Regions from separate parts of the Homo sapiens genome. Here all the other regions are linked to region 3. The links come from fine-mapping of genetic effects on gene expression. A gene starts in region 3. Each other region holds a variant in brackets. All regions are shown on one strand. Distances are between the middles of the regions. Region 1 overlaps KIF5C (kinesin family member 5C). Region 2 holds the start of KIF5C-AS1 (KIF5C antisense RNA 1). Region 3 holds the start of KIF5C (kinesin family member 5C).

Region 1 (11,147 bases), 67 kb before region 3:
AGTGCAATAAGTGGGGATCAATCATACAGTTAGGGAGACTGACCAAGCTTCAAGGCTGGCCTTCATGGGGACAATCAGCATGATGTCAGTGATGATGGAGGCCAGAGGGCATTGTGCACATGGCCTTGCTCTATGATGTTGCTCGAGGGAGGTCAGTGCCTCCAGACAGGGTGTGGCAGCAGAAGCCTCCACTGGTGCTATGGAAGTGAGACTGGAGATTCTGGGAAGCCTATTGCTCTGGAGTACAGCCCCAGCCAGGGCCTGGGAGGGCATGGGTCAGGGTGTAGACGACAAAAGAGAATCCGGACAAAACCAGAGAACAGTAAAGGCTTGCCGCTGAGGCTGATTACAGGCCACACTTCATGAGAGAGCCAAGGCCTTCCACATGGGACACCGTCAGCCCATGCCTACTGCTGGGAGAACCAGGGAATGCAGGGAGCGCCCCAGGTTCCAGACCTTCTATCAGCAAAACAAACCTGCAGAGGCAGGACTGCCACATTCCAATGGCAAAGCTCGTTCCTGGCCTATTAGAGTCGGGTACAACATGGGATTTTCTCTTTTCTCAGAAGTTCATATCCCTCCCACATGTGTGCAGCTGCCTCTGCCACAGGCTAAGTCAAACCAACTGTTGCCTCATATCATCATAAGGGCCCATCAGGGATAAATCAGAGTTGGCATGCAAAGCACCTGCCTGTGACACCAATAGGAGACCTCAGGACCAGAAAAGAAAGCAGGGACAAAGGGTTAAATGTAATAACACCTTGGCAGAGCCTCAGAAACTTTAAAAGCTCTTTAAAGCAGGAAAATAGAAAAGCATAAAAATTATACCATTGCACAATGAAGCAAATAAAAGGGGAAAATTATAGATAATACAAATAAAGAACAAATTACCTTTTCGCTCCCAGCCAAATCAACCAAATAAAGTTTCCCACTGAGTTTTTTTTCAGTCTCTACATTCTCTTGTTTAATATTTATCAGGAAGATACTGTGACTTCTAGAGCTGTGTTCATTCATGTCTGAAAAGGAAAATAGTTTACTGCTCTACAAAGAACATGTAGGTTTAGGTAGCAATCCTCTCATTTAAAAAGCATAACAAGTCATGCCTAATAGATCCATTTCATTGAAGTAAGTCCAGTCAATTCTAAAAATTATCTGAGACCCCTGTTTCTTCTGAAAAACAATGCTCATTCTAGAAATACAAGATTTTAAATGTCTTCAAGGAGCAAAGAAGTTAATCTAAAAATCTTAGTCAACAGTTTAAGATATCAGATTTTCTAGCTCTACCTGAAGCCCCATCCTCTAAATTCCTACTCCAGCATGACTTTCCCCTTGAAGAATTCACTACCTCCTCCCCTGCCTCACTTTAAATTCCTCAGACTTCATCATGATTAATACATGATGTAGTCTATCTTAGTCATGTGCATAAGCCTTGCCTTATCAGTAATATCATAAGCTTTCTTAAGCAAGGATTAAGACTTTCCTAAGGAAGGATTAAGACATACACTTCTACAACCTATGCTAACAGCAAAGAAGGTTTCAAAAATTAAATATGCTTCATTAAGATGGGGTACTGGAAATAAAAATCCTTGCAAATCCTCGTCTTTGTCTGCCAAGCAGACAGAGACCCCAGCAACCATCCCATTCAGCCTTCACCAGCAATCATTTCTCAAAACCATCTTACCAGATTATATGTAAAAAGCCCTAAAGATTCATTTTTAAAAAACTGTTAGAACTAATAATTAATTCAGCAAAGCTGTAGGATACAAAATCAACATGTAAAAAATCAGTTGCATTTCTATATACTAACAATGAACAACCCAAAAAATTAAGAAAACAACCTTATTTATAATAGCAAAAAAAGAATAAACTACTTAGGAATAAACTTAACCAAAGAAGAGAAAGACTTGTACACTGGAAACTACAAAACATGACTGAAAGATATGAAAGAAGACACAAATAAAGGGATTGATTGAAAGACTTAATATCATTAAGCTGTCAGTATTACCCAAAGCAATCTACAGATTCATGGCAATCTCTATCAAAATTTCAATGACATATTTTATAGAAGCAGAAAAATCCATCCTAAAATTTATATGAAATCTCAAGGGATACCAAATAGCCTAAACAATCTTGAAAAATAAGAACAGAGTTGAAGGTCTCACACTTCAACAATATAATGGACTTTGGGGACTTGAGGGGAAGGGTGGGAGTAGGGTGAGGGATAAGAGACTACAAATAGGGTGCAGTGCATACAGTTCGGGTGATAGGTGCACCAAAACCTCACAAATTAGCACTAAAGAACTTACTCATGTAACCAAATACCACCTGTACCCCAATAGCCTATGGAAAAATAAAAAATAAAAGTTACTACAAAGCTACAGGAATCAAAACAGTGTGGTATTGACATAAAGACAGACATATAAATCAACAGAAGAGAATAAAGGGCCCAGAAATAAATCCTCACATATATGGTTGAATAATTTTCAACAAGAGTGTCAAGACCATTTAATGTGGAAAGAACAGTCTTTTCAACAAATAGTGTTGGAAAAACTGGATAGCTACATGCAAAAAATATATTAATGTTGGGCCCTTACCTTAGAGTACATGCAAAAATTTACTCCAAAAGGATCAAATACCTACATATAAAAACTAAAACTATAAAACTCTTAGAAGAAAACACAGGAGAAAAGCTTCATGACATTGGACTTGGCAATAATTTCTTGGATATGACACCCAAAGCACAAGCAACAAAATAAAAATAGACACTTCATCAAAATTAAAAACTTTTATATCAAAAGACACTATCAATAGTGTAAAAAAGCAATCCATGGAATAGAAGAAAATTTTATAAATCATATATCTAATAAGGGATTGATGTCCAGAATACATAGAGAACTCCAAGTCAACAACAACAAATTAACCTGATTAAAAAATAAATACAGACCTTGAATAGACATTCCTCAAAGAAGATATACAAATGGCCTATAAGCACATGAAAAGATGCTGAACATCACTAATCATTAGGGAAATGCAAATCAAAACCACAATGAAACAGCACTTCACACCATTTGGATGGCTATTATAAAAATAATAACAATAACAAGTGGCAAGGATATAGAGAAATGGAAACTCTGATGTACTGCTGTTAGGAATAGAAAATGGTACAGCTGCTATAGAAAATCGTAATAATAGCAAATAGTAGCGGTTCCTCAAGAAATTGAAAGTAGAATTACCATGAGATCCGAAAATTCCACTTCTGCATATATACTCAAAAGAATTGAAATCAAGGACTCAAATAGATGTTTGCACACCTATGTTCATAACAGCATTATTCACAACTGCCAAAATGTGGAAGCCACCCAAGCGTCCATTAATGGTTAAACGAATTTTTTAAATGTTGTATATACATACAATGGAATATTGTTCAGCCTTAAAAAGGAAGGACACTTGCTACCACATGGATGAAACTTGAAGACATTATGCTAAGTGAAATAAGTCACAAAAGGACAAACACTTTATGATTCCACTTACATGAGGTACCTAGAGCAGTCAAATTCATAGAGATAAAGTAGGTTGAGCAAGAGGAGAATAAAGAATTGGTGTTTATTGGGTACAGAGTTTTGGTTGGAGAAGATAAAGTTCTAGAGATGGAAGGTGGTGACATTGCACACATTGTGAAGGTACTTAACATCACATAAATGCACACTTTAAAATGGTTAAGATGGCAAATTTCATATTAAGTATATTTTATTGCAATAATAAAGAAAAACCTTACCAGAATGATAAGAATAATAGCAATTTTTTTTTAGATTAGCAGTTCCAAACCAAGGCATCAAAATGGATTATCAGGTATGCCATAAATAATTTGTGATTAAAAACAGCTTCAGAAACAGAGTGAATAACGTAAATGAGAGATGCTACTACTATAAGAATATCTGTCTTACATTCTTTCAGGTATGTGTGCATGTTTTAAGCAAGAGAAAAAGAAGTGGAGCTTGACCAACATTTCATCCAGGAATAGGCTCACCTATGAAAGTTGCTATATACATGAATATCATCTGATACATTGCTCAGATAGAGAAAATGTTGAGAATTACAGTTCTGGACCACAGAATCAGAGAGTCTTGGGTAGAAGAGACTTAAAGAGCCTAGACCAGTCAGGAAACCAATGCCTGAATCTCTTTTACAACATAACAGTGAACTCACTACCTCTCTAGGTAGCAGGCAGCACTTGGGGCAGCTATAAGGGTTGGAGAGTTCTCCTCACAGGGGTCGAAATCTGCCTCCCTAGAGCTCCAACAATCATGGGTATTCTAAGTATTGAGATGGAACAGAACAAGCTGACCCTCTTTCTTAGTGTCAGCACCTTCAACACGGTAAGATATATTACATTGTCCACACACCCTCCTCCAGATTTTTTTCCCTCATGCAAGCTATAAACCCTTAGTTCTCTCAGCTTCTGTTCATATGAACTCACTGTCATTTGTCCACATCCCTCTTAATAAGATAGACAACTGTCTTTTTTCACGGATCCTCTGCTGCCCAAATCCCATATGCACTGCTTCCCTGAGATGCAATGAACATACTGAGGAAGGAACTGCAGAGCCAATGAGCCGATCTGAATGTGTCTGCTAGTAACATATCGGAAGGCTTTCCCTAAAGCTCCTGGCTCTGCTTTCTGACTTCCTTCTTCCCTTTCTTTTTCTTTTTTACAGAAGGCAGAAATCCAACATGGTTTATTTCCATGTGTGTGACTGCAACATATTATAGAATTTGTTGGTTTGGAACTTTTTTTTAACCTGAACAATAACATGATCAAAATAAATAAACTGATGAGCTTACTCTTTCCCTCCCTTTGGTTGGCTGGTTGTTTATTTTTCCTAATGTTCAGGCTTAGGCTGTTATCAGGGTCCAGTAAGTCTCACCCAATATCTCCAAGACCTCAGAGTCCTGTGGACAGCAGAAGGCACCCTTTCCCATGACTGCCTAGACATACTCATAGCACACATACCCTGGCGTCTGTGTCCGAGCACTGCTCTTTAATCACCTTCCCATGCATTCTTTCATTTGTACCTAATTCCCCACCCCCCTCGGTTGGTGGGCAGATATCTGTCTCCCAAGCTGCAGGGGAGGAAACACCCCCACCATGCTTACTTGTCACAGCCACGTGTCGGTTTGCTTTGCCTTCATCTATTACATCCATGACTTCCTCAGGGCTCGACACAAACCGCTCAGTGCACCCCTGGAAGAGAATCAGTTCAGGTTCACCACTGAAAGAGTTGAAAAGCAACAATATTTTGAAAGGCTGAAACATTTTCCTGTTTATCTTCTAGAGGTGCAGATAAATAGAAAGGCTGAAATATCGATCCAACAACTTTTCCTCCTTGCCCAGGGCTTGAATTCTACATTAAAGAGAAGTCTGAGCAAGCCCTAGGAAATATAGACGTAAACCAAAAAAAGAACTGTCAAATTTTCCTAGGTTTTTGAGTACATATTCATACTGAACAGCAACACTTTAAGAAGACAGAAAATCAAAGAAGAAAATCAATGAGAGAAGAAGAAATGGATGAAGTTTTGCTTTGCCTTCTATCTTTATTTATTTATGATCATGGCCACCAATATTAGCTACTTTGATGTTCCACAGATAATGCTATAATAGGCGTTACTGCAAAGTAAAAACAGTTGCACTCAATATCAAAATCTCTTTAAATGTGAACAATATTAAATAATAATGTCATAAAGGAAAGATACAATTGAAGAAAGTAAATGTCAATTTTTAAAACCAGATGAATATTAAATATAAGGAGCCTGAATAAATGCCTATATGCTCTTTACAGATAATATTCTGCACATCTTATGTAATAATTATTATGACAGAGACTGGAGAGAAATTAATTGCATCACCAATCAAATCTTCCTCATACCTTTACATACGGGACTCTGTTTTTATCTTCATGAACAGCCAAGTTGGTCTTGGATACTAAAAAGATGAGAATGACAGCAGGCAAAGAAGAAAATAAAAGTTAAAGACTCTATATTGGAGGAAAAATGGAAGTTTGTTACAAAGACAGTCAAATCTAATCTCTTTGCAATATGCAAGTTTAAGCCTTGGCTGAGAATAAACATATACCCTGAAGGCAACAGAGTATCTCTATAAATTTTCATTAATTCCTTAAGCAGAAGTGTGATAAACCATTTCAACCTCCCCGGACTTTCGTTACAGAACAAATAAAGGACAAGCACTGAGGTTACTTACCATCAAGTAAGTCCCTTATTTTGTCCAAGTAGATCTCAAAATAGGAAACCTAGTTAAAAACAAATTGAGCTTGGAATAGACATGCCGCAGTGTATTTCAAAAATGCCATTATTAGTACTTATGAAAGCTTTCATCATGCATGGCTAAGAAGAGTAAGAAGAGGGGTTCAAAGTGAAGACTTAAAATCTGGCCAGCTCTACTGGGATTCCCCTACTTCCCGCTTGCTCTACGCTTCCCTAAGTGTGGACCACTCTCCACCTACACACATCACAGCTCCCTTTGGTTGTCATTCAAGTGTTCTTAACATCATGTGCTAGACACTTACAGGAGGACTCTAGG[C/A]TTTAAGTTAGATGAGCACCAAGCACGCTTAGAAAACACTCAGTAGGCCTCACCTTATTGCATGATACTGACAGTATCATGAAGGAGACTTAGCCCAAATGTTCACATGCAAGAAGCCAGGAGAGGGCAAGGGCAGTGTGTTTAGAACTACAAGAGCTCAGAAAGGTAACTGAGCAAGAGCTGGTAATGGTGGCCAGCTCTGGTGCATCCAGGAAAGATCTGAACAAAATGGGACTTGATAAAAGATGGTTAGACTGTGAGAAGAAAAGGAGGCCTTCCCATTAGTCTCAAGGCTCAGCCACAGCACCACCTTCATCAGCATCACCTAAGAACCTGTTTGAACTGCAGAACCCTGAACCCTACTACAGTCCTGCTGAATCCGAATCCCAGATAAAAGGAACTAGGAATCTGGTTCTCAGTTGCCCAGGCGATTCTTATGCTGGCTGATGTCTGAGACCTGCTTTAACTAAATATGTGGTCTTAGGGACTCAATTCACACATAACCAAGACCCTAGGCCTCAATTGTACCATCTGTCACATGAAGCCATAGGGCTTTACGATGTCAAAAATCCCCCTCTAGGATTCTGTACTCTGTTTACATCTGCTGTCTGCCTACCCAATAAACTTATCTGCCCTATGTTCATAAGTGCTTTTGAAATCTAAACAAGGGAGTGGGCAGAAAGGAAAACAGTTGTAAAGTTGTAAAGCTGGGATGTGACTACTCAGGTAAAACCTCATCCCTACATCCCAGCTCTGGACCAGTCAAGGGGAAGCAAAGACTCTAACCCAGCACTGGTCCCAGCTCTGACTCAGCCCTGATCCATTATCCTTAATGTGCCTCGGTCTGGAACTACCTGACTGGAACCATCCCAGCTACTCTGAGATGTGGGGTCCTAGCTTGAGCCCTGGAATCCACTGCTGGGCATCTCTCCTGGCTGCCTGTATCCCTAGCAACATCTGCCTACTTGAACACCTGTCAGACTTCCCTGTCCCTGAGGCCCATCTCTCATGGACACACTTATGTGACATTTGAAAGACTCACGCCTACAGCTTTCTCTAATCTTTCATGCTGCCACACTCCCCACATCCTTATGGGTCTGTCTGACCTCCAATCCTGGACATCTCTAACCCAGTCCTTCCTGCAGCCAACTCCACCCTGGTTCAGCGCATTCTATTTATTTCAGAATTGTCTGATGTTCATTAAGACTTGTCTATTATTTTTGAGATCTTAAACATATGGCCTTATTTCCATAGATTACAGAGAAAATTAATTACATCTAAAAAAAAGTCACAAACTAGATACTGGCAAATCTGGCAATTAGAATCATATTCACATTTAATGTAAGTAGAAACAGGATTCTGATTTCATTAATTTCTGCTTTTGGTGTGTGTGCGAGGGTGGTGATTTTGTTGTTTTGTCATTTAAAATACTTTGTGAGACTAGGCGGAAGAAAAATAAATAGGCATTGTTTGGCATTAAGAAATAGGACGTTCAGAAATAAAGTTTAAAACCTCTGTGGGACTCATTTAAGGAGCAGATTTTCGATATTGCCTTAGTCAGTCCTCTTTTTCTTGATTTAGCCTCTCACTATCCGGTTCAGAATACAAAGTAGTCAGCAACTAATTTGCCCACTTATTATTTATAAAACAAGTAAGCATAAGTACAAATGCAACACAGAAATCCAGACTGTAAAATTCAGCCCTAGAGACTTAAGAGTGTTGTTCCTCTCCTCCCCTAACTTCATGCTAGGGCTGTTTTTATCTTAATAAGATTCTAACACAAGACCCTATTTTGAGGGCAGTAATTGGTTTAACATCTTATTCCAGGATTATCACATAAGAACCCTGCAGTAGTTTAAGCTATTTAAATGCAAACAGCCCTAAAGAAGCACTAAGCTTCTAAATCTTGATCCCATCAAAGCAACAAGCTTCTGTATCCTTAGATATAAAGAACCTTGGCAAGAAGGAGAAGCAGGCTTTAGCCAACAAAAGGAATCCTAAGGAAAAGTGATTTGCTAGATGTAATTTATAGTTGGGCAAACAGTTGGTGCCTTCTTTTTATGTCATTTACGAAAGGTATACAGTAGTAAGGGGAGAAGTTTAATATAATTGAAAAGGTATCGCATGTGCGGTTGGTCAGACCTAGGGTCTATTCTTAGTTTTATCAATAACTTGGTGTTTAAGTTGGGCCTTGTAACTCTGCGTCTTTTTTTTTTTTTTTTTTTAAGACAGAATCTCTCTCTGTCGCCCAGGCTAGAGTGTGGTGGAGTGATCTCAGCTCACTGCAACCTCTGCCTCCCAGGTTCAAGTGATTCTCGTGCCTCAGCCTCCTGAGTAGCTGGGATTATAGGCACACACCACCATGCCTGGCTACTTTTTTTGTATTTTTTTTTTTTAGTTGAGACAGGGTTTCACCATGTTGGCCAGGCTGGTCGTGAACTCCTGACCTCAGGCAATCTGCCCGCCTCAACCTCCCAAAGTGCTGGGATTACAGGTCTGAGCCACTGTGCCCAGCCTAACCCTGCATCTTTAAACTTCCGTTTCCTCATCTCTGAACAGATGGGCCTGGTGCACTAAGATCCCAGCCTGAAGGGAAATCTCTTAGCAGATCTGCTTAGCGAGGCTTCTTAGAACTGCCCCTTCACCCTCCCCAGCCACAGTGGGGGCCCCCAGACAGCATGTGCATCCTGGACACAGCTCATCGGGCAAGGGGGGCACCTATGTAGGCTGGGCCAATGAGTCCCTGCCCAAGGGAATTTAGAGTTGGAAATAAGGGAATGGTGGAGCAGCAGCTGCCATGTTGCCAACCCCTTCTCCCACCAAAAAGAGAGAAAGATGCTCCAGAACAAGAGAAAGAAGTCAAGCAAGGGGGCAGAAAAGCAGGGACTGTAACAGGTTTGGGGTTTCTTTTGGAGGTGACGATATGCTCAAGAATTAGGATAAGGATCATCATTGTACACTTTTGGGAATATATTAAAAACCATCAAACTATACACTTTAAAAGGATGAATTTTGCGGTATGTGAACAATATCTCAATTGTTTAAAAAGTTTAAAAAGAAAAACAGGGCTTAGATTTCCTGCCCTCCACACTTCATCCTCCACAAAATGCCCACTGTCAGATTCTGTATCTTATAAACAATATCCTCTATTTGCTTAAACAAGTGCCTTTCAGCCACTTGCAAAAGAGGTGTTCCAATGAATATACCCTACTATCAAATTTGATTATTTAACAGCTACAGTAAGAGAGTAGAAATCTCTCTTTTAATGCCAATTTAAGTCATATAACAAGTTTTGGTTTAAAACAAAAACAAAATACAAGGGGGAAGATAAAAAGGAAGAGAATTCCTCTTCCCAACATTTCTCAGAGTTCTGCTCTGTGACACTCTGCTCAAAACACAAGTCTGTGATACTCTTAGGAGGAGAAATGTGTCTACATTCAAATAAGCTGGGAAATGTAATCTAATGCATGTCCCCTTTGCAGAGCATATTGAAACCTGTGATAAACTTAACACTGTTCAAGAAAGCATTTTCCCAGCTCATTTGGCCTTACAGCCCTTTTCCCTGCTAGCCCACCATTAATAACACAAGGGACTGTGTTCCACAGAACACACTTTGGAAAATGCTGCCCTAACCCAAACACAAACACATTTCAGTCATACCCACAGAAATCCAGAGGATAAAGGGTAGAATTTGGGCAACAATCAAGATGATTTCCTCCTAAAGAAGGCTTTTGCTTTCATTATGTGGATATTTCAAGCAAACCCTCCAGACACCTGTTAGCCTAGGTCACTAATAAAGAGGGCTCTGCTTACCACAAGAATGTCATTTAAATTAGTAGGATCATCTTTTATATCTTCTTGAAAGGAGGAGGTATAAGAAACGTTATCTGGGGCCCAGTGTCTTCTCTGGGGACCAATCAGTAATACGTACCTTTATGTGAAACTCCAGGTTCTCATCCATGGAGTAGATATGGTCAAAGATATCATGGGCAATTCGTGGGATGATCCCCATGAGCTGGGGGTCATGCAGCTTCCCCTAGTGGGCGAAAATACAAACACGGGCAGTTAAAGCATGCTGGGAGACACATGAGAGAGAGGGAGAACCATCTCTGGGTTCCTCAGACAGAACCCGGTGGAGCAGGAAGCACCCACGTGTGCCTGCCAGCTCCCTTGGGCATCTACCTGACTTGCCAACAGACCAGAAGTTGGTGGAAAAACTCATTGTGTTGGCCTGTTTATCCAGCAGGGGAGCACTTGTTCTGCCAAGTTCTGAGGCCCCACATTATTGCCTCCAGCTGCCACTCAAGGAAACAAAATCAGAGTCTATGTGGCTAGTGTGGGGTGAGGAGGAGGAGGAAAAGGGAGCAGGAGAAGGAACGAGAATATATGGGTTTGGGTTTTGAGTATTTACAAACTGACCTGAGCCTGGAGTTCCAAGTAAGGCAATCTTGTTTAATGAAATCACCTCTAGAACTGATTTCCAAAATTTTCCAAAATTTCTAAGAACCTTATTCTGGCAACACTTTCAGTATCATTTAACAGATCAATCAAG
Region 2 (11,147 bases), 19 kb before region 3:
TGGGCTTAGCATAAAACCATCACAGATAGGCATTCCCTACATGACTAGATCACTGGACTGTAAGCTTTAAATAGAAAATGGTGAGGCAATGTGGGTTATTGGAAAAGAGTGTCCACAATGATATGTGTTTAAGGATGAAGGGGGAGATAAATTATCAGGAAAACCATCTGCTCCAAGGTCTGAGAAATAGAAGGCACTGGCAAAATAGAGACATCTTTGGGGAATACTGAAAACTAAGCTGCATAGAAGTCAAATGGGGAAAAAAAATCACAAAATCAGCAAAATAGCTTTCCAAGAGCAATCAAACAAGGTACCTGAAGAGTAGAAAAACAGTTCAATAAAGCTGACCAAGCAGCCCGACTCTGGGGCAGCTACCAACCTTAATTGTCTCTGCATCGGTTTGAGCTGAGCTTAAAGTTAGGCAGAATGAAGTGGCCAAGCACTTGTTTTCCATGAGATCTGAAATCATTCTGTTGCCTTAATGCCCAGGCATACCCTACATTCAGCTGTGAACACAGGAGACATACACAGAAATATGAGAAGGGAAAGCCCAACCTCATGGAATTCAGGAAAGAAATACCCATGACTTGGCTGAGGAAATCTATTGCAACCATTTTTAAGGAGTCTGTTGGTAACTGAGGAGTAGTAATTATCCAATTGTTTTCTTTTTTTTTTTTTTTTTTTTTTTGAGATGGAGTTCTGCTCTTGTTGCCCAGGCGGAGAGCAGTGGCGCGACCTCGGCTCACCGCAACCTCTGCCTTCTGGAATCAAGCGATTCTCCTGCCTCAGCCTCCCAAGAGGCTGGGATTACAGGCGCCCACCACCACGCCCGGCTGATTTTTTGTATTTTTAGTAGAGATGGGGTTTTGCCATGTTGGCCAGGCTGGTCTCGAAATCCTGACCTTAGGTGATTCACCCTCCTCAGCCTCCCAAAGTGCTGGGATTATAGGCATGAGCCACCACGCCTGGACCCAGCTGTTTTCTTATGCCAAGCATAAGCACATCTAGATGTTCTCATTTAAGAGAATAAAATAAATCTCTTTAATTTGCTTTACTTCACCTGTTCCATTTTCGTTAATCCAAAAGCTGACATTGCCAATGGTATTTAACAATAAAGCAGCAAGTAGTCTTGAAACAAAAATAACATTAAAAGGAAAGAGTAAGATATGGCTTTCTATGCTTTGTCACTGACTCTTAAAAAAATAAGATTAAAAGGTGTTCGATGACGAAAGAACTATATAGGCTAATCTGAATTCTGAAAAAAATACTATTTAATTAATATTCTATATAGCAAGCACCTAATACAATTCTTATTTTAGCAGAGATTATATACATAATGTCTCCATTTCATATAAAATTTTCTCTGAATGCTAGATGTTTGGTTATTAATGTGAACATAAACCCTTCAAAATATTACTGTTTTTCTTCATAGAGAATAGCTCATGAACATTCGTTGCTGCTCTCTAACAGGAACAGATATCTTCTGGTAAAAACTTGTGTTTGCTTTGTAAAAAAAATTAAATAATACCATGTAGTAGGGTGACGTTTCCTTTCGCTGCTATAAAAAATTAACAGAAATTTAGTGGTTTAAGACAACAAAATTTTATTATCTTTCAGTTCTGGATGTCAGAGGTCCAACTTGAGTCTCACTGGGCTGATGTCAAGAAGCCTGCAGAGCTGCTTTCTTCCTGGAGGCTCTAGGAGAGATTCCGTTTTCCTGCCTTTGCCAGCTTCTAGCGGCCGCCTGTATTCCTTGGCTCGCATGACCCCTCTGTATCCTTAAAGCAGTAATGGCCCGTCAAGTCTCATGAGGCCATCAGTTTGGTTTCAACTTTTCTGCTTCCTTCTTCCCCATTTAAGAATCCCTGTGATTGCACTAGACAATCTTTATTTGAAGGTCAAATGGTTAACAACCATAACTCCATCTGCAACCTTAATTCCCACTGGTCATGCAACATAACATATTCGGGTTCTGGGATTAAGAAGTGGACATCTTTCAGGGCCATTATTCTGCCTACTACAGAGGAAATGAGAATTGTCTCATGAGATACTCAGTTCAGGGCTCTGTGGCCTCTGCATTTAATGATTGGTTTGGTGGTAACATTCAACATGAGCCTGCCTATTCTACTGCAGGGAACTGGCAACTTTGGCTTTTTCAGACTGGAGAGAGCCTCTCAATCTAGGACTCTCCACTCCCTAGGTGCCTGAAGGTCTCCATTCCTATGTGGACTAGACAGGACATTTGGCAGGAAGGGAGGGCTAGGAAAAAGACAGGACTTCCCACAGTGATCTACATGCAGAAGGCCTTAGAGCCAGTCTTTGATGGGAGGAAGGCACAGTGTGCAAATCAGGGCTCAACTCCTCTCCACTCCCTCAAACCCTGAGCTTTCTCTGCTAGCCAGCACCACCTCTCCCTGGAGCACACAGGATGATTTTTTTTTTTTTTTTTTTTTTTTTTTTTTTTTTTTTTTTGAGACTGAGTCTTACTCTGTCAGCCAGGCTGGAGTACAGTGGCATGATCTCGGTTCACTATAACCTCCGCCTTCCAGGTTCAAGTGATTCTCATGCCTCAGCCTCCTGAGTAACTGGGACCACAGGTGTACACTACCACAACCAGCTAATTTTTGTATTTTTAGTAAAGACAGGGTTTTACCATGTCAGCCAGGCAGGTCTCAAACTCCTGACTGCAAGTGATCCACCTGCCTTGGCCTCCCAAAGTACTGGAGTTACAGGTGTGAGCCACATCACCTGGCTCACAGGATGATTTTTAAATGCATTCTATACACACTTAACAAACATGCCACTAATCTGGAAAATTTATTTCACTGGTACCTAGCATAGTGTCTGGACCAGAGCTGGGACTCAAAAATATTTATTGCATTAATAAATATCGCATACTTTTATAATGTCTGTGAGGTGGAGCATTGAGCTGAGCAGGACTAGAGAATGCTGAAAAATAAGATTTTGATGTCCTTCAGCCCTTCAAATGAGCTAGGGAAAATTCAATTTTTGAAAGGAAGCTATAATAACTCCCAAAAGTTCAAGAAACCCTAGTCTACTATGTGCTGGTTCATGAATTAAACTTAGTAGATCATAAGCAGCATTTTAAAAAATAAAATGAGACAGAGTAGAATAGAAAATATTAGAGGACATCACATATATTAACAGTGTCACTTCATAAAACTATTATTTCAGATGTGTGTCTGTGTGCTAAGTTGCAATATATTTGTATTTCTTGTTAAAATGAATCATGATCTTGGCCGGGCGCAGTGGCTCATGCCTATAATCCTAGCACTTTGGGAGGCCAAGACGGGCAGATCACCTGAGGTCAGGAGTTTGAGACCAGCCTGGCCAACATCGTGAAACCCCATCTCTACTAAAGATACAAAAATTAGCCGGATGTAGTGGTGAGTGCCTGTAATCCCAGCTATTCAGGAGGCTGAGGCAGGAGAATCGCCTGAACCTGGGAGCTGGAGGCTGCAGTGAGCCCTGAGATCACACCACTGCACTCCAGCCTGGGTGACAGAGTGAGACTCCATCAGAAAGAAAGAGAGAGAGAGAGAGAGAGGAAGGATCATGATCTCATAGTCAAAAACAAATGGAAAACTGCTGCTCTACTAAAAACGTTCTCATCACAGAATTCTGGAATAGGCTAGCCTTTCACAGGATGATAGTTACCAAAAACTCAGTTCCAAATGGCTAATTTTTAACTTCTTAGGTTTCTATTGTCTTTTGTCCCAGACAGTTCCAGCAAGGCATAATGATGCTAAGAGAATTACCTCCCTTTCATTCTCTGTTCCAGTACACTCTCAATCCCTTACCAAAACATTCGCCTGGGATTCTCTTTTCTCACTGAATAAAACAGGATACACATCAGCATCGTGATGCTCCAGAGGGGAGGCAGTCCATGAAATGGTCTGATTGCTGTAGAATTCTTTTCATGTAGCCATCCACCCCATTGTGAAAGAAGCAGCTGGATATCCAAGCATCTTCCAATACTCAGGCTTCAAGGTCCAATAATGTCCACTCCTCCCCAGGAAAAGCTGGCATGCTGCTGACGTGGCCTCTCTACTCCTTTGTTTGCAGGCTTAGCTCACGTATGTGTTGTTCACTGCTCACACAAGCCACTCTCTAGGAGGGCTCGCTGAGAGCTCTCTTCTAGGGAATCTAAACTTTGTTATTTGGAAAAAGCCAGGAAACCCTTCATGAGCTGAGGATGGGTTTCCTGGCTTCAGAGGATGGGTCTGAGTTCTCACATCTCTCAACCCCCTTGCAGCATATAATGGCTTTAGTATATGCTACTCGTTATAGACACAACTGGGTCCACCCCAAAATTTAACTGTTGAAGCCCCACATTGGAGGTTAGCAAAATTCCTAACACCCAATGTGACTGTATTTGGGGATAGGGCCTTCAGGGGGGTAATTAAGGATAAATGAGGTGATAACGGTGGGACTCTGACTCAATAGGATTCATATGTCCTTATAAGAAGAGGAAGAGACACCAGATCTCTGTGGGTGTGTGTGTGTGTGTGTGTGTGTGTGTGTCACACAGAAAAGCAGGCATGTGAGGACATGCACGGTGAGAAGGTGGCTATCTACATGCCAGGAAGATAGCCCTCACCAGAAACCAACCTTGGCACCTCGATCTTGGGCTTTCAATTTCCAGAACTCTGAGAAAATGAATTTCTGTTGCTTAAGCCACTGAGTCTGTAGTATTTTGTTTTGACAGTTCAAGCAAACTAATACGCTAGTTATATTAAATAGAATTTACGTAAGCTATGTTTTTTGACCATTTGAAACATAAATGTTAAGAGAAAAGAGTAAGTCACAGACAAATATATACAGTATTTTTATAAATATTTTGGAGATTCAAGAT[A/C]AAAAAAAAAGTAAACAATCTATCATTTAGGGCCAAAAAAATGTTTGCCATAAAACCATAGAGAATGATAAAAGTAGGGCCAAGTGCGGTGGCTCACACCTGTAATCCCAGGACTTTGGGAGGCTGAGGCAGGTGGATCACTTGAGGTTAGGAGTTTGAGACCAGCCTGGCCAACATGGTGAAACCCCATTTCTACTAAAAATACAAAAATTAGCCGGGCGTGGTGGTGCACACCTGTAATCCCAGCTACTCAGGGGGCTGAGGCATGAGAATCGCTTGAACCCGGGAGGCGGAGGTTGCAAGTGAGCTGAGATTACTCCATTGCACTCCAGCCTGGGAAGAGACTCCATCTCAAAAAAAGCAAAATTCCAGGGAGTGCTTGCTTCAGAGTGAGGGGGATAACAGCTGAGATGAAGGGAGGGTTGCATATTGGTAAAGTGATGTTAAGCAAAAGGTGGCCTCATGGGTGTTAATTTCTTTAGAACATCTCATAATTTTTTGTTTTATATATATTATTTTATATATATTAAGTATTTTAGAATAGAATTTATAAAAGTAAGGTGTTAGAATAACCTAACGCCCATCAGTTCATACTTATTCTTGGGGAGAGGAGAGGGGATAAGGAGCATTTCTACTTTCCAAATCTTAACTTCCTGAATTTTTTTAAATCAACCTAAAATGTTTATATAATATTTGGAATAAAAATGAAAGAAAATTAAAGAAAAAAAGTAAAAAGAAACTACTGAACACTTGTGATTACTTTTATACTTCCTTTAATCTTCCCTCCCACCCTATATATATATATATATATTGTACTAAACTTATTTGAAATGTAAGCTTTGGCTGAAAATAACTTGCCCTCTTTTGAAATGAAAATAATTGCTACAGGGTTGTAATAATAATTCAATCACTGGTTATAGCCTGGTTATAAGGAAAACACCAGGAAACAGACATCCAAGGAAGGAAGTCTCTTATTTCTTTTCATTTCAAGGCAATTTAGGTAAATTACAGACATTTCCCTTTCAGAGCTGAGGACTATCAATAGAATTTTAAGTGTGGTCCATTTATACTAATGTCTTCAATTTAGAACTTCTTGGACCTTACTTTCTTTATGATGCCAGCTTTTAGTTCACATTAAAATAATTTTATGACTAGCAAGTTGCAAAAAGAGAAAAGTGTTTTGTACATGTGGCTTCTATATTTTGGTAGAAGGAGAAATCATTTCAAGGCAATCATTTTCTGTACTTAGTGAATCTCTAATTTCTTTCCTTTTGGCACTGCCAACTGGATAACTAGATAGAAGATAATGGAGTTTGGATATTCAATACAAAACTATTTTCATTCTGTGGAAAATGAAACCACTTTGCAAACTACTATGAAACCACTGCAAAACCACTTTGCCCCACCCTTAAAGGTGTTTCATGCTCCATAATCCTTTAGTACTATTCAATCACTTGTCAGTGGTACTGTATTCCCAGTGTGTGTATGTGTGTGTGGTGGGGTGTGTGTGTGTGCACTTCTATCCATCTGTCTCCTCTACTAAACAGTGAGTTGCTTGAAGGTAAGATAAATGAATTGTGCTCCCCTAAGAAATGCCTGCATTTGCAGTTTGGTCCAAAGACGGTGAATTGCACAAAAGCAATATGTAGGCAGCTTCTTTAGTCCTCAGGTGGAAGCGATAATGGGATGTAGGGAGGTAATGAGACTAAAAATAATCATGAAAATGAGAATGTAAGTGCCACAAGAAATATTCATTCATTCATTCATTCATTCATTTTATCATGTATTATGTGTACCCATTCGGAATCATGTGTTGAGAATATGAAAATAAATCAAGCAAACCCTGACCTGAGAGGAGCTCACACTCCAAGTGGGATAATTCCAAGAAGGAAGTGACTAAAGAGAAATGGAAATACCTCACTGTGAGTTTCTAGGGTGAGAACAAATTTACAGCCACAGATAGATGGGAATGGCACTCGAAGAAGAGGGAACCTCATCAATAAAGGCTTGGACGAGTGAACGTGCAGACTGAGTTTAGGACACAATGGATAGTTAGGTTTGAGAAAGGCAGAGTCCTGAAGTGAAGTACAGTCATCAAGGCAAAAGGCTAAAGGGAACATAGTGTGGAGGGGTTTGCTGAATCACAGAAACCAAGTTGGGGAGTTCAAACTTATTTTAGTGAGCAAAAGAAAAGCCTTACATGTTTTTGAGCAGAGAATTGGCATAAATCTGAGTGGCACTTTGGAAAGAAGAGTTTAGCAACAGTGTTCAAAAGAGACCAAAGAGTAGAAAGGAAACAGGGAATTGTATTCCAAGACTACTGCAATTCAAGCAAGAGCCAGTCAAGGTCTTCAGGATCCATTTGTGATTAAAAACAAAACAAGCCAGGTATAGACTGTACTTTCTTATCTTGACAATAAATATCTACTAAAAACGTAAAGCAAACCTTGTTCTAAGATTAAGAACGAGACAAGGGTTCTAAGTATCACTGATTTTATTTTAAACTGTCCTGCAGGTCCAATCCAATGCAATAAGATAAGAAAAAAGAAAGTAAAAGTCTACATCTGGAAAGAAGGAAACAAAACTGTCATTATTTGAAGAAGAAAAAATTATCTTCATGATATATCTTTCAAAATCTACTGAAAATTTTTTAGAAGACAGTTTAGCAGTGTGGCTGAATGAGCAGATGGACTTAGAAATCTAAGAAGCAGACATAAATCTCTCCATTTTTAAGACAGAGAAGAATAGAGATTAAATAAAGGTTTTTACAAGAAAAGCATCATAATCCTTTCTCTGTGGACAGGTCCATGTGGATTAATAGTACATCTAAACATTCATAAGTGTAGCCTAAGAGGTTTCCAAGTAAATGCACCACACCCTGAGAGGAATGGCACTGCATTCTATGGAAGGTCCTAAACAGCCTTTCAGATGGAAATCACAGCATGACAGAGAAGCCAATTGGGACTTCATACATAATTTGAGATGAATGCAAGGGCAAGCAACAGAGATGGAAAAAATTCTTCCACTTTTAAGTATAGCCCAGGTTTACAGCTCTCTTCTCCTATAGTCGTTCCCAAACTTACGTCTCAGTCTAATCGGTTGCTAATGGGAACAACAAAGCTAGGTATGCTTATTCCATTTACTGCAGGATTGCTGATTCAAAGAGGCAGCCTCCAAGAGGCAGAGAATGAGAGCAACACTTATCACATTTGATTGACATCAAATCCTTTTATCAGGTAATATCTCAAAGAACTAGTGCCTCGGAGAAATTCTAGTTTAGAAAATGCTGTGCACTCAAACATTCTCAATTCCTGGTATGAACCAAAATTTAGGTGCAACATAGCAAATGGTTAAAAGCAAGGATGCTGGAGCCCACTATGCTGGATCCACAACTTACTCTTCTGTGACCTTCAGCAACTTGCTTAACCTCTCTATGCCCAAGTTTCCTCATTTGCAGAATGGCAAGAGGGAAAATGACAAGAGCAGTTACCTCATAGGGTCATACTGAAGATTAAAATGAATGATGCAGTGGCTCATGCCTATAATCCCAGCACTTTGGGAGGCCAAGAGGGATGGATCACCTGAGATCAGGAGTTTGAGACCAGCCTGACCAACATGGTGAAACCCCACCTCTACTAAAAATACAAAAATTAGCCAGGCATGGTGGTGCATGCCTGTAATCCCAGCTACTTCGGAGGCTGAGGCAGGAAAATCGCTTGAACCTGGGAGGTGGAGGTTGCAGTGAGCAGAGATCACGCCATTGCACTCCAGCCTGGGCAACAAGAGTGAGACTCTGTCTCAAAAAAACAAAAAATAAATACAAAATAAAAATAAAATGAATGATTTCATATATGTAAAGCACTTATTTAAGTGTTGTCACTACACTGTTAGAATTACAATATTTCACAAGCGAGGAAGAATATGACTTTGTTGGTGTAAGAAGAAAATTGCTCTGCATGAAATAGGCCCATAAAGGTCTGTGAGAAGAGCAGTAATACATACATTGTCTGCAGTTCTGCTAATCAAGACATTCGACTAATTGATATTTATAGTGCACACATTAATGCCTAGATTTGTGTCTGGTTTGAGGTGACGTGAATAGGAAAAAAATAATAATAAAAAAAAAAAGAAGAAGCAATCCTTAGCCTTAAAAAGGTTGGAGGATTTTCTCTAAATATGGTCCTCCTAAGTATCCACGTTGAAAAGCACCTTTTCTCCAACTTTCCATATTCACTTTCCTGAATAAATTACATCTTCTGGAAGGAAATTTAGTGCTAAAGGAATTTTGCCAATATTAAGCCATTTATAGGATTGTTTTCTACCACCTCTTCCCTCAAAATGATAAGCAAGTTCAACAGACATGAAACTACTACTGTACACTCAGGAGACTCTGAAATATGCAATATCCCAAATGGGACCCACAATGCAAAATTCTTCCAGGGAACATCTATACCAACAGAAAAATGCCTTAAATTACTTTATTATACTTTACTTTTAAAATGTGGCTTAATTTATGCATACTTCATTATATATCAATTCCTTGAAATCTGGTGATCTATATATATAATATATATGATAACCAGTAGCCAGAACAATGTCATCCTCCAACTATTAATTAAATAAGATATTCATATATTTATCCTTTTGGATGCTAAGTCAAGAACACGTAACAGTTGAAACTCATTTGGGCTACCAGCCATAAAACTGTGAAATGCAAACTTCAACAGTACCCGTCCTCATGGGAACCTGAAAAGGGTTATTTGAGGTCAAAAGACACAACATTTAAGGAGAAATGTCTCATGGGAGTATTTCTGATCCAGCTATAGGATAGAGTGGAATACCAACTCAACTAAATCAAATTTCAATTCCTCTAGCCCTCTTTCAAGCCCCTCCACATCCAATCCCCTCCTTTCTAGCAACCTTGCTCTCTCCTCTATACTCAGGCCTCTCAAAAGTGGCTCACATGCTTCCTTGTCCTTTCACACAAAGTGATCACTGCTCTTTTTTTTGTTTAGAGTCAGGGTCTTGCTCTGTTGCCCAGGCTGGAGTGCAGTGGTGCAATCATAGCTACCTGCAGCCTCCAATTCCTGGGCTCAAGTGATCTTCCTGCTTCAGCCTCCCAAGCAGATGGCACTACAGGTACACACGACCATACCTGGCTAATTTTTAAAAATATTCTGTAGAGGCAGGGTCTTGCTATCTTTCCCAGGCTGGAACAGTGATCATCTTGAATACCTTTTCTCCCCTGTAGAAACTGTTATTCCATCTTTCCTTTTTTCTTTGTGCCTTGTGTGTTCTTTAAGTTGTATGCAAAAAGTGTCTCTATTTAAACATTTTAAAAGTTATTATTTATAGCTTATAAATAGGTATAACAGCAGTATAGGTAAATTTTTCACAAACCAGTTAGTTTCTTAAGTAAATGGTACTCAACATGATAGTTAAGGCACCAAAAAGGACCTCTGTATTTGAGTGACTAAACCTACGCAATAAAGAGCAGCATTTTGTACTCAAAATAAATTTTGTAGAAAAGGAAACATGCTGTGTCTTCTAAAGTAAGACAACAAACACACCCAGAAAGGGGGCCCACAGCATTCCTTTCCTCTCTTTTTCCACCGTAATTTCCTCCTCATATTGCTTTTCCTTTTGTTTACCTTACTCAGGTTCTCCTGTCCCAGCCCCTGGGCTTGCCAGTGATGCCCAGAGGATGATGTGCCTGGTGGCTGAGCTCTTCCAGAACTAAAGACGTGCGGATCCCTGAGTATCCATAACCATCAAAGCATGAAGTAATGCCTTGTAAGTGGTGTCACCACACCTCCCAGAAGAAGGATGGATTCCTACCAGAAGCAGTCAAACATAGTGCCGGATCATCTAAGTGAAACGGATCCCCATGGGTGCTGCTATTGGGATACCAAAGGTCTGAAGTTCATCCAATGCAATAGCAGAAATAATTACATCTGTGAGCATGTGAGAAGAACCCTGAGTTAGTCCCAAGTGCAAATCACCATCTCCAACCAATTCCTCCACCAATTGATGGATGTTGGGGAGTGGGGTACAGCAACCCCTCCAAGTCCTTCCTCCCTCTATATAGCCCAGGAGACTCCCCTCCCACCAGCCTGGCCCCCAGAGTGCTGACTGGCAACAATATTCCAAGTTAAAATAGTTTGCTAAATAGTTATACAATTAGTTTACAATTCAAATATATCAGAGGAAAAGACAGGGAAAAAAATTCTAAGATACATGAATCCCAGACCATTGCTCTCCAAATATTTTC
Region 3 (11,147 bases):
AGAAATAGATGAAAACAGTGGGTATTCCAACCAGGAGAATGGGGTGAACAAATGCCTAAGAAATGGTAATGCAAGAAGGGTTTTCAGGGGATAGCCAGAAGGGGCACTAATTTGTGGGGCCAAAGCTAATGTTGACATGAGGAAGGTCACCAAGGGAACAGGAGACATAGGAGGTAATCAGCGCCTATTGAGCATTTTCTCTGTGCCAGACACTCTCTCACCACTTCATTTCATTTCATCCAAATGACCCTGTGAGGTAAGTAATTATTATCTGCACTTTCAATACAAGAAAACTCATGCCCAGGAAAGCTCAGCAACTTGAAAAAAAAAAAAAAAAACTAGGTTTTTTTTTAGCTAGTGAATCTACACTCGGTTTTGTCTCACCCTTCCTGCTACCTCTACCCACCCCATTCACTGACTGTGTGCCTACTGTGAATAGTGAGTGGCCTCAGTGACACACGCCAGATTACAGCTCTCTATGATGTTCCCTCAGTCCATGATTTCACAGGGTACATGTGAAGGAAACCACTAACCCATTTCAGGTGATATAAACATCTCTGAATTTAGGGCACAGAGGAATGAAGAACTGATACATCCTGACACTACTAGACTAGAATGCACTTAGACAAAGTGACTAAATAAACTTACTTTGGTTTAAAATGTTACTGCTTTTAGATGGAAATGCAAATTGGTACAACCACTTTAGAAAACAGTTTGGCAGTTTCTTACAGAGTTAACCGTATGGTTACTTTACAACCCAGCAATCCCATTCCTGGATATTTACCCAAGAGAAATAAAAATGTATACTCACACAGAACCTATATGCAAAGGTTTATAGCAGCTTTATTCATAATCATACCAAACTGGAAACAAGCCGAGCATGGTGGCTCATGCCTATAATCCCAGCACTTTGGGAGGCCAAGGCAGGTGGATCACCTGAAGTCAGGAGTTCAAGACCAGCCTGGCCAACATGGTGAAACCCCATCTCTACTAAAAATACAAAAATTAGCTGAATGTGGTGGCACACGCCTGTAGTCCCAGCTACCTGGGAGGCTGAGGCAGGAGAATTGCTTGAACCCAGGAGGCAGAGGTTGCGATAAGCCAGGGTCACACCACTGCACTCCAGCCTGGGTGACAGAGCAAGACTCAGTCTCAAAGAAAAAAAAAAAAGTGGTATTACTGCGTGTAAATTTGAAAAAATTGTTTTAATGTTATTGCTTTGGAAGACCATTACTGTGGAAAGAAGAAAAGTTTTAAGGTGTAGCTGTATTTCTTCACTTAATCTCTAAAATCCTAACTCAGGCGCGGATTTGGTCTCCAGGCCCCTTCCCCATCCATCTACTGCCAAGAAATAATCTAAGCTTCTGAAGACTGGGGCCACTTTCCAGCTTAGGGTTTGTGGCTGATGTTTTGCTCTGGCTCTTAGGCCCTCAGGAGGAAGCACTCATCTTTAACAAGACCTGCTTTCTCAGGACTGCAAACAAGAGAAAAGCCCAATAAGAGGAAAGTGAAGTGTGAAAATCCATTTCAAAGAACTTTACTGAGAACTCACCATGTCAGAGAGCTTCCATTAATACAGTTGCTTCAAAACCAATAGGCAGAACCCAAAGTAATGGATGACTCACCAGGACTTTTAGCAGCTAATGGAGTACTCTGAGAAATGCTGTAAATCCAATATTTTTGCTGAAAAATTAATGTGTTATGGGAGGGAGCCTCTTTTCTAATCACTTACCCACCCCCACCCTCTACTTCTAGTTCACCATCAGCATCTTTAGCTCTTCTAATTTTTGCCAAAGCTGAATGCAGTTCTTTCCCAATTTTCTTATATCATTTTAAGTATTATATATGCTATCTTACCAGGCCCACTCAGAGAAACAGCACTTATCTTTAAAATTATTTTTTAACTACTCCCCACAGCCTACGGCCAATAAAAACTCTGTAAACTATGTTAAATATACCAAAGTAAAGTTTCCAGAATTCACAGAGAGATCGATAAATATTTACTAAGTGCCTTCTACAGACAAAGCCCTGGGAAGTATAAAGGAGCAAAACATGCACAGTTCTTGTCTCTAAACATGGCTTACAATGTCATTAGGCATATGACCAAAGCTAATAATAATCCAAGGCAAAAAACTTGGGAGATCATATACAAAACAAATGCTATAGGAGTTCAAAGTGGGGAAAGACTGTGGCTGGTGTGGTCAGAGAAAGACAGCTTTGCACAAAGCTGAAAAACTGCAGGAGTGATGGAGAACATTTCTCCCAAACAGGACATTTTCATAAAAGAGAAATCTAGAAACTCCACCTGTAAAATCTCTTTCTTGGAATATATCTCCATAACAAACAGAACTTTAAGGGAAAAAATGACCCCAGTTTCAAAAACACAAAGAATTTCTGGGATTCTGAATTTGGACTAACAGATAACTCCACCAAAATTCATTCTTTACTTGTCTCTGTTTGAAGGTGACATATTTCTGGATGATCTGGGCTTCTTTGGTCATCCACAGTCTGTGCCCCTAGAACTAAGGAAGGTTGTGTACATCTCAGACAGTTTTCACTTGCAACTGAGCCATGTCAGCCGGCTCCAACTGAATTGACTTGGGACCATTCTACTCATTGCATATGGCATGATACAGACTGCCAGAACCCTCATTTCCTTTAGTGCCACATTATCAATTAGGAATGGGAAGGATCCTGGCACATGCCAACCCAACTCCCAAACCCTTCAGTATCTGGCAGTCTTCTATTCTGTACATGCACTCACCAAAATATACATAAACGAATGTTCATAGCAGCACTAGCCATATTAGCCCCAAACCGGAAACTATCCAAATATCCATCAACAGTCAGTAGACAAATTGTAGTATATTCATATCATGGAATACTACAAAACAATGAGGATGAATTTGACAAGCATAACACTTAATCCCAAGAAACCACACACAAAAGAGAACATACTCTATGGTTTTATGTAATATAAAGTTAAAAAGAAACAAGCAAAACTAATAGCATCAGAAGTGAGAATCATGGTTACCCTGAAGCAGGGGGATTTAGGGACTGGAAGGGCCACAAGGGGGATTTCTAGGGTCCCAAAATGTCTGTTTCTTAGTCTGTGAGGTGGTTACAGGGAGCATTTACTTTATGAAAAGTCATCCAACTGTATACTTATGATAACAGTTTTCTATATGAATGCTTCATTTCAATAAAAAGTTTACCTTAGAAAAACTGAAAACTGTTGTATTAAAGGATTATAGTAGGATGAGCAAAACTTACTTTACGGTTGAAAAGCAATGTGTATATTCACATCTATGATTTTTATTTAAACTTCTTATTTAATATGGTGACTTGGTTTTAATTTGTTTAGCCACTAATATATGTTTATTTAGATAAGGAAATATATACTCATAGCAATGTCATATTAAAGAAGGATAATTCTAAAATTAAGGAGCTCTGCCTTGCATACAGGTCAAGGAAGATGATTTATTACTTCATTTCATTGGTTCTGGAAGAAGAAGAGGAGGAGAAGGGAGAGGGGAGAGGGGAAAGGGGATGGGGGAGGAGGGAGGAGGGGAGAAGAAAAACTTCTTCAGGCTCTTCAAAACCTCTGGGAAAAAAATAGGGTTGCCAGAACATGTTCCAGTACTGCACAATTATTTGTTTAAAAATTGTTACAAGCCAAGGGGCAGGGACTAGATGTCCCCAGTAACTCCCACTCTATCTAAACCACAGCCTGGCTCAGAAAGTAGCAGATCAGGCTGTAGGCAGATACTGGCTGAGAGCTGTAAACCAAATAAGTCACTAACTGCCCCAGGTACTGCCTATGTATATGTCACTAACACTTATCTGCCATTAACTGCAGAATTTCCTTCCTCATCAATAATCGTAGCTTATATCTTCTCTGCAAGTTTAACACTAAACAGAGAGAAAACCCCGCTTTCCTGCCCTCATAGGTCAGCTCGCAGAATGATCGCCCATCCACACAGCGTTTGGAGGTCAGACGTTCCTGATGACTGTGAAAATGGGGAGGTGAGAAGAGGTCGTCAAAGGGAGCAGCCTTTTAAAGCCAGGTACAGGTTAAAGCCCTGAGGCCAGAGCCTTGCCCAGGCTCCTCTAGCGTGGAGAGCTCCCGCCTTACGGTACAGCTGGCACCTGCTGGTCCCCAGGGCCCTTCGCTGCGACTGCGGCAGACAACCTTGGCAAAGATGCTGGGGACCGCCCGGGCTGGAAAACGTCGGCCTCTGGCGCTTGAGAAAGGCCAGGCGGACTCCTGCAATACCCTCGGTAAACTGTCACCTGTCAATCACTTGACCTAAATACACCAGCCACTGGAGGAAGGGGAGGAGGGGGTTAGTCGGAGCATGCTCAGTGATCAGGATGACATCACTTAATCAATGCTGGGGACGGGAAGGCTGCATCAGCAGCCTGGAGCAGGCTGCCAGGAACGTGTCAGCGGGGACCGGGAGGCTCCCATTAACTCGGTCCCTCCCCACGCGGCTCGCATACAAAGGGGGCACCATCAGCCACACACGCTACGGACAGCGGGCGGGGAAGGGGCGGGGGACCGAGCTGGTTTGTTTCATCTGACAGATTCCTTTAAGAACTACAATCCATTGGTGTTCCCTCCCCCTACCAGCAGCCCCAGCTGCAGAGAGGGAGCTAAGTAGGGGGAGGGGGTGGGGGAGAAAAGGTGGGGAAGGGAGATAGAGAGGGAGGGGGGTCCGAGCCGCACGAAGTAACTTCTGCTCTTGGCACAGGGGGCTACTGCGCTCTGAGCCCCCTCGCCCCACAGATGTGGACACAGCCTCCTCTCCACCCAGCGTGAGGCGCATCAGAGGGTCTGCAGACATGGGAGGGAGGTCATCCCAGAGGGGAGGGATCAAGCCGGGACTCCACATCCAGGGCAGCCAGGCGTGAGAGGAAGCGGGAGACACACCAGGCCTCCAGGGGACACCGAGGCCACCAGTACTCCCCCAACCCTCCGCCTTCCGCGCGCGGAGCCAGGTGTAACACCGCGGGGAGCCGCGTCTACACTGCCGCGGGAGCTCCGAGACGCGACTAGAAATTTTCCTGTACCCCTTTTTCTTTCTTTTTTGCTAGGGTCGTGAGAAGAAGAGGCAAGGCGTTTGGTAAATCGAATTGATTGATGCCCAGAAGCATTTGCGGGTTGCAGAGCTCACACTTTAAAGGGGGCCTGGGCACCCGGCTTGAGGGTCACCCGAACACACTACCCACGCGGCGAGGCGAGCGTGGGGAACAATGGGCCCACCCGGGCCCCCACCCGGCGAACAATGGCGGCGCCGAGCCCGTCTTCGCCCCCCATCCCCACCCCCGCCACCCCCGCCCGGCCCGCCGCTCCCGGCCGCCTCTCCACCCGCCCGGGAGGGAACCATAGTGCGCGGGGCGAGGGGTCTCTGGTCAGGTCCACCCGAGAGGCCAGCCCCGCGGGAATGTCCGAGGGGGCGGCCTAAACACCTCCGCTGCGTCTGGGGCGTCGGGGCGCCCAGCTGCGGCGCGGAGCAGCAGGGAAGGCAGACGCCCCAGCCACTTACCCCGATCACCACGGTCTCATCGCCTTTAAATTTGGGGATGAATTTGTCCCCGCGGAGGATCTCCGCTTCGTTGAGGGGCCGGAACCGGCACATCACTTTGATGCTGCATTCGGCTGGATCCGCCATCTCGGCCGGCGGTAGGGAGGGGGCACGGGGATGGGTGGGGGGCCGGGGCCGGGAACGACGAGGGAGGAGGCCGCGAGCTGCACCGCCCACAGCTAGGCCGCCTCCTGCAGCCTCCGACGACGCTTCTCAGCAGGTCATCGCGAGCCCGGCCGGCTGAGCAGCCCCGGCCGCTCCGAGCCCGGGAAGGTGGGCAGCTTCTCCGCTCCGGCCCCTCCGGCTGCAGACCGGCCTGCCCTGGCCCTGCCCCGCCCCTGCCCAGCGCCCCCCGGCCCACCTGCCCGCGACCACGCGGCGGGCGGAGGAGGCGATGCGCAGGGAGCGAGCCTCGCCCGGCTCAGACCTCCCGGGCTCCTGCGCGCTCAGCCATCCTGCATCAGCACCAGCGCGCTCTGCCGCCTTGAGACCCGCCCCTCCGCCCCGCCCTCCCCTGGCCCGCCCCGGGACGGTGACGTCACCGTAGAGGTCCGCCCGGCCCCCGCCCGACTCCGAGCGCTGCGCATCCCGGGACTTGTAGTCACTCTACCTGCCGGGGGAAGGACAGGATGCGACCTCCAAGAGCCTGCAAGTCCGGTCTGGCTGCCCAAGCCGGAACCGGATGGAGGTCATATCCAATATTTCCGGTTAAAATCTCTAGATAACTGGGTCTGGATCATCCTGATCCCAAAAGAAAATCACTTGGGAAACAGCTCCCAATAGCCCCTGGGTTTCATCCTTCAACTTCTACCACTAGATAAGGATGGATGTCTGTTCAGAGTTTGGGTTTGATTGGCCTTGGTTTAGGTTGGCATCTAGTGCTAAACCAATCAACCAGAATCAGGGATTTTGTAAGATTATGGAGGAATCCCTTGGTGGGAAGGTTCCCAAAAGAAGAGGGATGGTATTCCCAGACATGGTGCCGGGCTGGCAGAACAACTGAGTGTCCACTCTATTTTTCCAGAACTTCCTTTTCCTCTAAGACCTAGCTCAACCCTCCTTCCTCAGACTTTCCCAGCTCACTAAACACCTATAAAGAGTTGGTGGCCCTCCTTGATGTTCCCCTAATCTGCTGTGCCTGTCTCTAGCACTGCACTTGGGTGGTGATATCTGCTTGATATCTTTGTGTCTGTAGCATCTAGCACATAGTGGGCAGCATACTGAATAAGGATTCTACCCTAGGAAGAAGCAATGCATGAGTGTGAATCCCACCTCAGCCACTTATTAGATGTATGACCAACAGGCGGAGGAAATTAAGAGCGGAGGAAATTAAGAAGTCTTAATTTCCTTAAGACTCAGTTTCCTCATCTCTGTCATTGGAATAATATCATCTTGTGATTTCTGGGGGAATTAAAAGACAGATGCTTTTAAAGCACCTAGCACGGTGCCTGACATGTATATAGGATAAGCTCTTGAAAGTTAGATGTTATTGGGTGCTGAACAAATGATCATAAAACAAATAAGTTAGTTAATTTTAGGAACACATCTGTTGCTTAAATTCGGGTAATACCTGAAAATACAAGTGTTCTCTGCCTAGCTGAGAGGACAGACCTACTAAAATCAACTTTTATAAACCCTTGTAAGTAGTACCAGTTCTATTTCATCTCCTCATGTGCAGTGGAAGTAGATTAAAAAGACCCAGGTGCCACCTTCTCATCTGTTTTTAAATTAAGTAATTCTCAGGCTCTGGCTCAGAGACCCATCATCTTAAATGATCAACTTCATAATATACTAGAGAGGACAATCCAATTCTCAGTTTCCCTGAGCCCACCAGAAGATGCCCAGAACCTTGCATACACTGGTTTATCTGAGGAGGTCAGGATTATCTCAAGTGGACAGAGACGTATCTGTGTGTCACTGTGTTCAGTCATCATTCATTCGTTCATCTGTTCATTCATCAGCTATTAACTGAGCAAATGGCATTTGCTGTCACTCTGTAAACTTAGATTTATTAAGTGAACCCTTTTCAAGGGAGATAACGTAGGGCCTCTCATTTGAAGGGAGGTTGCAAAATAAGTCATCGCCCTCAGGCAGCTTAGAAACTAGTGGGAGTACAGAGGATGAAGTTCTCAGTGTTGTCTGAGAAGGCTTAATATAGGAAATGGGCTAAGTAGGATTCAAAACAATTGAAAAGGGACACCAAAAGATAGGTAACAGGCCGGGCGCCGTGGCTCACGCATGTTAATCCCAGCACTTTGGGAGGCTGAGATGGGTGGATCACTTGAGGTCAGGAGTTTGAGACCAGCCTGACCAACCTGGTGAAACCTGGTCTCTACTAAGAATACAAAAATTAGCCAGGCATGGTGGCACGTGCCTGTAATTCCAGCTAATCTGGCGACTGAGGCAGAAGAATCGCTTGAACCCAGGAGGCAGAGATTGCAGTGAGCCAGGATTGTGCCTCTGCACTCCAACCTGGGCGACAGAGTGAGTCTCCATCTCAGGGAAAAAAAAAAAAAAGATAGGTAACAGAAGAAAAAACAGATAAATTTAACTACATCAAAATTAAAACTTTTGCACATCAAAGGATGCTATGAACAGAGTGAGAAGGCAGCTCATGAAATGGGAAAAAATTTGCAAATAATACATCTGATAAGGAGTTAATATACAGAATATATAAAGAATACCTATAACTCACAACCAAAAAAAAATTTTAAAAATGGGCAAAGGATGATGAGCTGGGCTGGATTCCATCTTGGTAGCCAAGGCTAATTCTCCCTCGAGTTCTTGGGAGATGGGCCTTTGGCAAGAAGGCTGGTGTTAGTGAAGCGCACCCGACGCCACGGAAAAAACTACTTTTAAGGAAATATAGCATCTATCGTGAACGTGGAAAAGTAAAGATAATTCACCATGCCTGCTGTGGCTTTAGTTCCTAAAGAACTCTACCTGAGTTCTTCACTAAAAGACCTCAATAAGAAGACAGAAGTTAAACCAGAGAAAATAAGCACTAAGAGGATTACGTCCATTCAATACTTGGAACTGCAAACATCAAAAAAGCCATTGAAGAAGCTGAAAGACTCTCTGAGAGCCTTAAACTAAGATATAAAGAAGCTGAAGTCCGGAAATAACTTGAGGAAAAGGACAGGCAGAAGGAAGCACAGCAACTACAACAAAAAAGGCAGGAAACAGGAAGAGAGGATGGTGGCACATTGGCTAAAGTTTCTTTGGAGAATGTATTGGATTCCAAAGACAAAACCCAAAAGAGCAATGGTGAAAAGAGTGAAAAAATGTGAGACCAAAGAGAAAGGAGCAATTACAACAAAGGAACTATACACAATGATGACGGATAAAAACATCAGCTTGATTATAATGATTGCTCGAAGAATGCAGAATTATCAGGATTCCTGTATTTTACATTCTCTCAGTGTTCCTGAAGAAGCCATCAGTCCAGGGTGGGTTATTGTGTAGTAAAGTGGTAAACTGTGTAGTAAGCAGTAAACTGTGGACCTTAGTAAATGTTACTACTTAGCATTCAAGCTAAATGTGATAAAGTAGTCTTTTCCTGTTAACTTTTTAAATCTTTGCCTCTTTTTTTGGGGGGGGGCAGGGCCAGAGGGGGAGGTGCGTTTTAAGAGCAGAGGTTTAATAGGCAAAAGAAAGAAAAAGGAGAACAGGGCCGGGCTCGGTGTCTCACACCTGTAATCCCAGCACTTTGGGAGGCCGAGGCAGGTGGGTCACAAGGTCAGAAGTTTGAGACCAGCCTGATCAGAATGGTGAAACCCTGTCTGTACTAAAAATGCAAAAATTAGCCGGGCATGGTGGCATGCGCCTGTAATCCCAGCTACTCAGGAGGCTGAGTCAGGAGAATCACTTGAACCCGGGAGGCGGAGGTTGCAGTGAGCCAAGATCGCACCACTGCACTCCAGCCTAGGTGACAGAATGAGACTCTGTCGCAAAAAAAAAAAAAAAGAAAAAGGAGAACAGCTCTCTCATTTTTGAGAGTGAGAGGTGCCCAAATGGCACTTCCCTAAATCTTTGCTTCTTAAAGACACACTTTACGCTTTATGAAGGTTGAAGTTACAGATTTCCTAACTTTTGATTTGGCTGTTTTCTCCTATTTGTGGTATTTAGAATCCTATCAAAAGAGAAATGAAGTTGCCTTTTCCCTCTCTCCCCAGGTGTTTGTTGACTGATTTTTCCTATTATTTTCTGTTTATAAGCATGTGAATGATATGTACCAAATTGACTAAAATTGTGAACTAATTGAATTGTTTTACATGTTGAAATTCCCTATATTATCTGTGATACAAGAGTATCCAAATACTGTGTGTGTGCTTTAAAGAGTACAGTCTCTGATGTCAGACTCTATTCAAATAATTGTCACCTACTAGCTGCATTATTTCTAGCTAGTGACTTAGCATTTCTAAGCTCATGTTTCCATCTGTAAAATGGGGATAATAACAGAACCTATCTTACAGAGGTTTCAGGAGATTTAAATGAGAAACGTTATATATATACACACACACACACACACACACACACACACTTTAGCACAGGTCCTGGCACGAGTAAGGACTTAATTTAAAATTTTTTCTTTCTTTTTTAGTAAAAAGGCCTTTAACCTATGAAATAATTTAAAGTGACTTGCATGGGTATATTGTACAGTAGAAATCATGATAGTGGCAGAGCTAAACCTCCAGATACAGGGCTATTTTCACTATTTCGAGCATTCTTATATAGATCCTATTACCTCTCTGGGTCTTAATTTAATTTTAAAATTAGGTAATGAAATCTGTATAGTTCTTGGCATATTGCAGATGCTTGACAAATGTTTGACCTGAAGCATAGAGTGCTTTGTAAATAAGCTATTTAAAAATTAGAGCTCTTGGGCAGGGTGCAGTGGCTCACACCTGTAATCCAAGCATTTTGAAAGGCCAAAGTGGGCGGATCACTTGAGGTCAGGAGTTCCAGACCAGCCTGGCCAACATGGTGAAACCCCATCTTTACTAAAAATACTTCAGCCGGGTGTGGTGGTGCATGCCTATAATCCCAGCTACTCGGGAGGCTGAGGCAGGAGAATCGCTTGAACTTGGGAGGCAAAGGTTACAGTGAGCTGAGATCACGCCACTGCACTCCGGCCTGGGCTACAGAGGGAGACTCCGTCTCAAAAAAAAAAAAAAAAAAAAAAAAAAAAGTTAGAGCTCTTTGAGGAAGACACCGTCGAAAGTGGTGCCGAGCTGTGGTCTGCCCGCTTCTGCTCCTGCTCCTGACTCACTGCTGTTGCTCTCGCCAAGGAACCAGTCGGTCAGGAAGCCACGCAGCAGCTGTGGCTTTTAAAGATACTGGAAAAACACCCTTGGAGCCGGAGGTGGCAATTCACTGAATTCGAATCACTGTTTATGAGCCACAGCTTAAAATCCCTGGAGGAGGTGTGTGCTGACTTGATCAGAGGAGCAAAGGAAAGGAATCTCAAAGTGAAAGGACCAGTTCAAATGCCTACTAAGACTTCGAGAATCGCTACAAGAAAAACTCCTTTTGGTGAAGGTTCTAAGACATGGGATC

The links. PIP is the estimated chance that this variant, and not a neighbour inherited with it, causes the effect. A credible set is the group of variants that fine-mapping cannot tell apart.
Region 1: its variant is the best candidate, but not a certain one, in a credible set for the expression of KIF5C in whole blood (INTERVAL, PIP 0.86).
Region 2: its variant is the best candidate, but not a certain one, in a credible set for the expression of KIF5C in whole blood (TOPMed, PIP 0.82).

What each region holds. Positions count from the first base shown.
Region 1 is chr2:148,936,768-148,947,914 of GRCh38, reverse strand. KIF5C (kinesin family member 5C) reads right to left here. Exons shown (of 26, transcript NM_004522.3): 4 at 10,527-10,631; 5 at 6,257-6,305; 6 at 5,925-5,980; 7 at 5,155-5,242; 8 at 892-1,016. Among named protein-coding and RNA genes, the nearest start is that of KIF5C-AS1, 47 kb to the right of the region's middle. The variant C/A (reference allele first, on the strand shown) is at 6,596.
Region 2 is chr2:148,889,244-148,900,390 of GRCh38, reverse strand. All of the region lies in intron 1 of KIF5C (kinesin family member 5C), which reads right to left. KIF5C-AS1 (KIF5C antisense RNA 1) reads left to right here and starts at 5,377. Exons shown (of 4, transcript XR_001739733.2): 1 at 5,377-11,147. The variant A/C (reference allele first, on the strand shown) is at 4,877.
Region 3 is chr2:148,870,146-148,881,292 of GRCh38, reverse strand. KIF5C (kinesin family member 5C) reads right to left here and starts at 6,066. Exons shown (of 26, transcript NM_004522.3): 1 at 5,550-6,066. The coding sequence starts at 5,675. KIF5C-AS1 (KIF5C antisense RNA 1) reads left to right here. Exons shown (of 4, transcript XR_001739733.2): 3 at 3,951-4,281; 4 at 5,098-8,296. It also overlaps the pseudogene RPS20P13 and the pseudogene USP8P2. RefSeq lists enhancers at 4,242-4,821, 4,822-5,400 and a silencer at 5,773-6,242.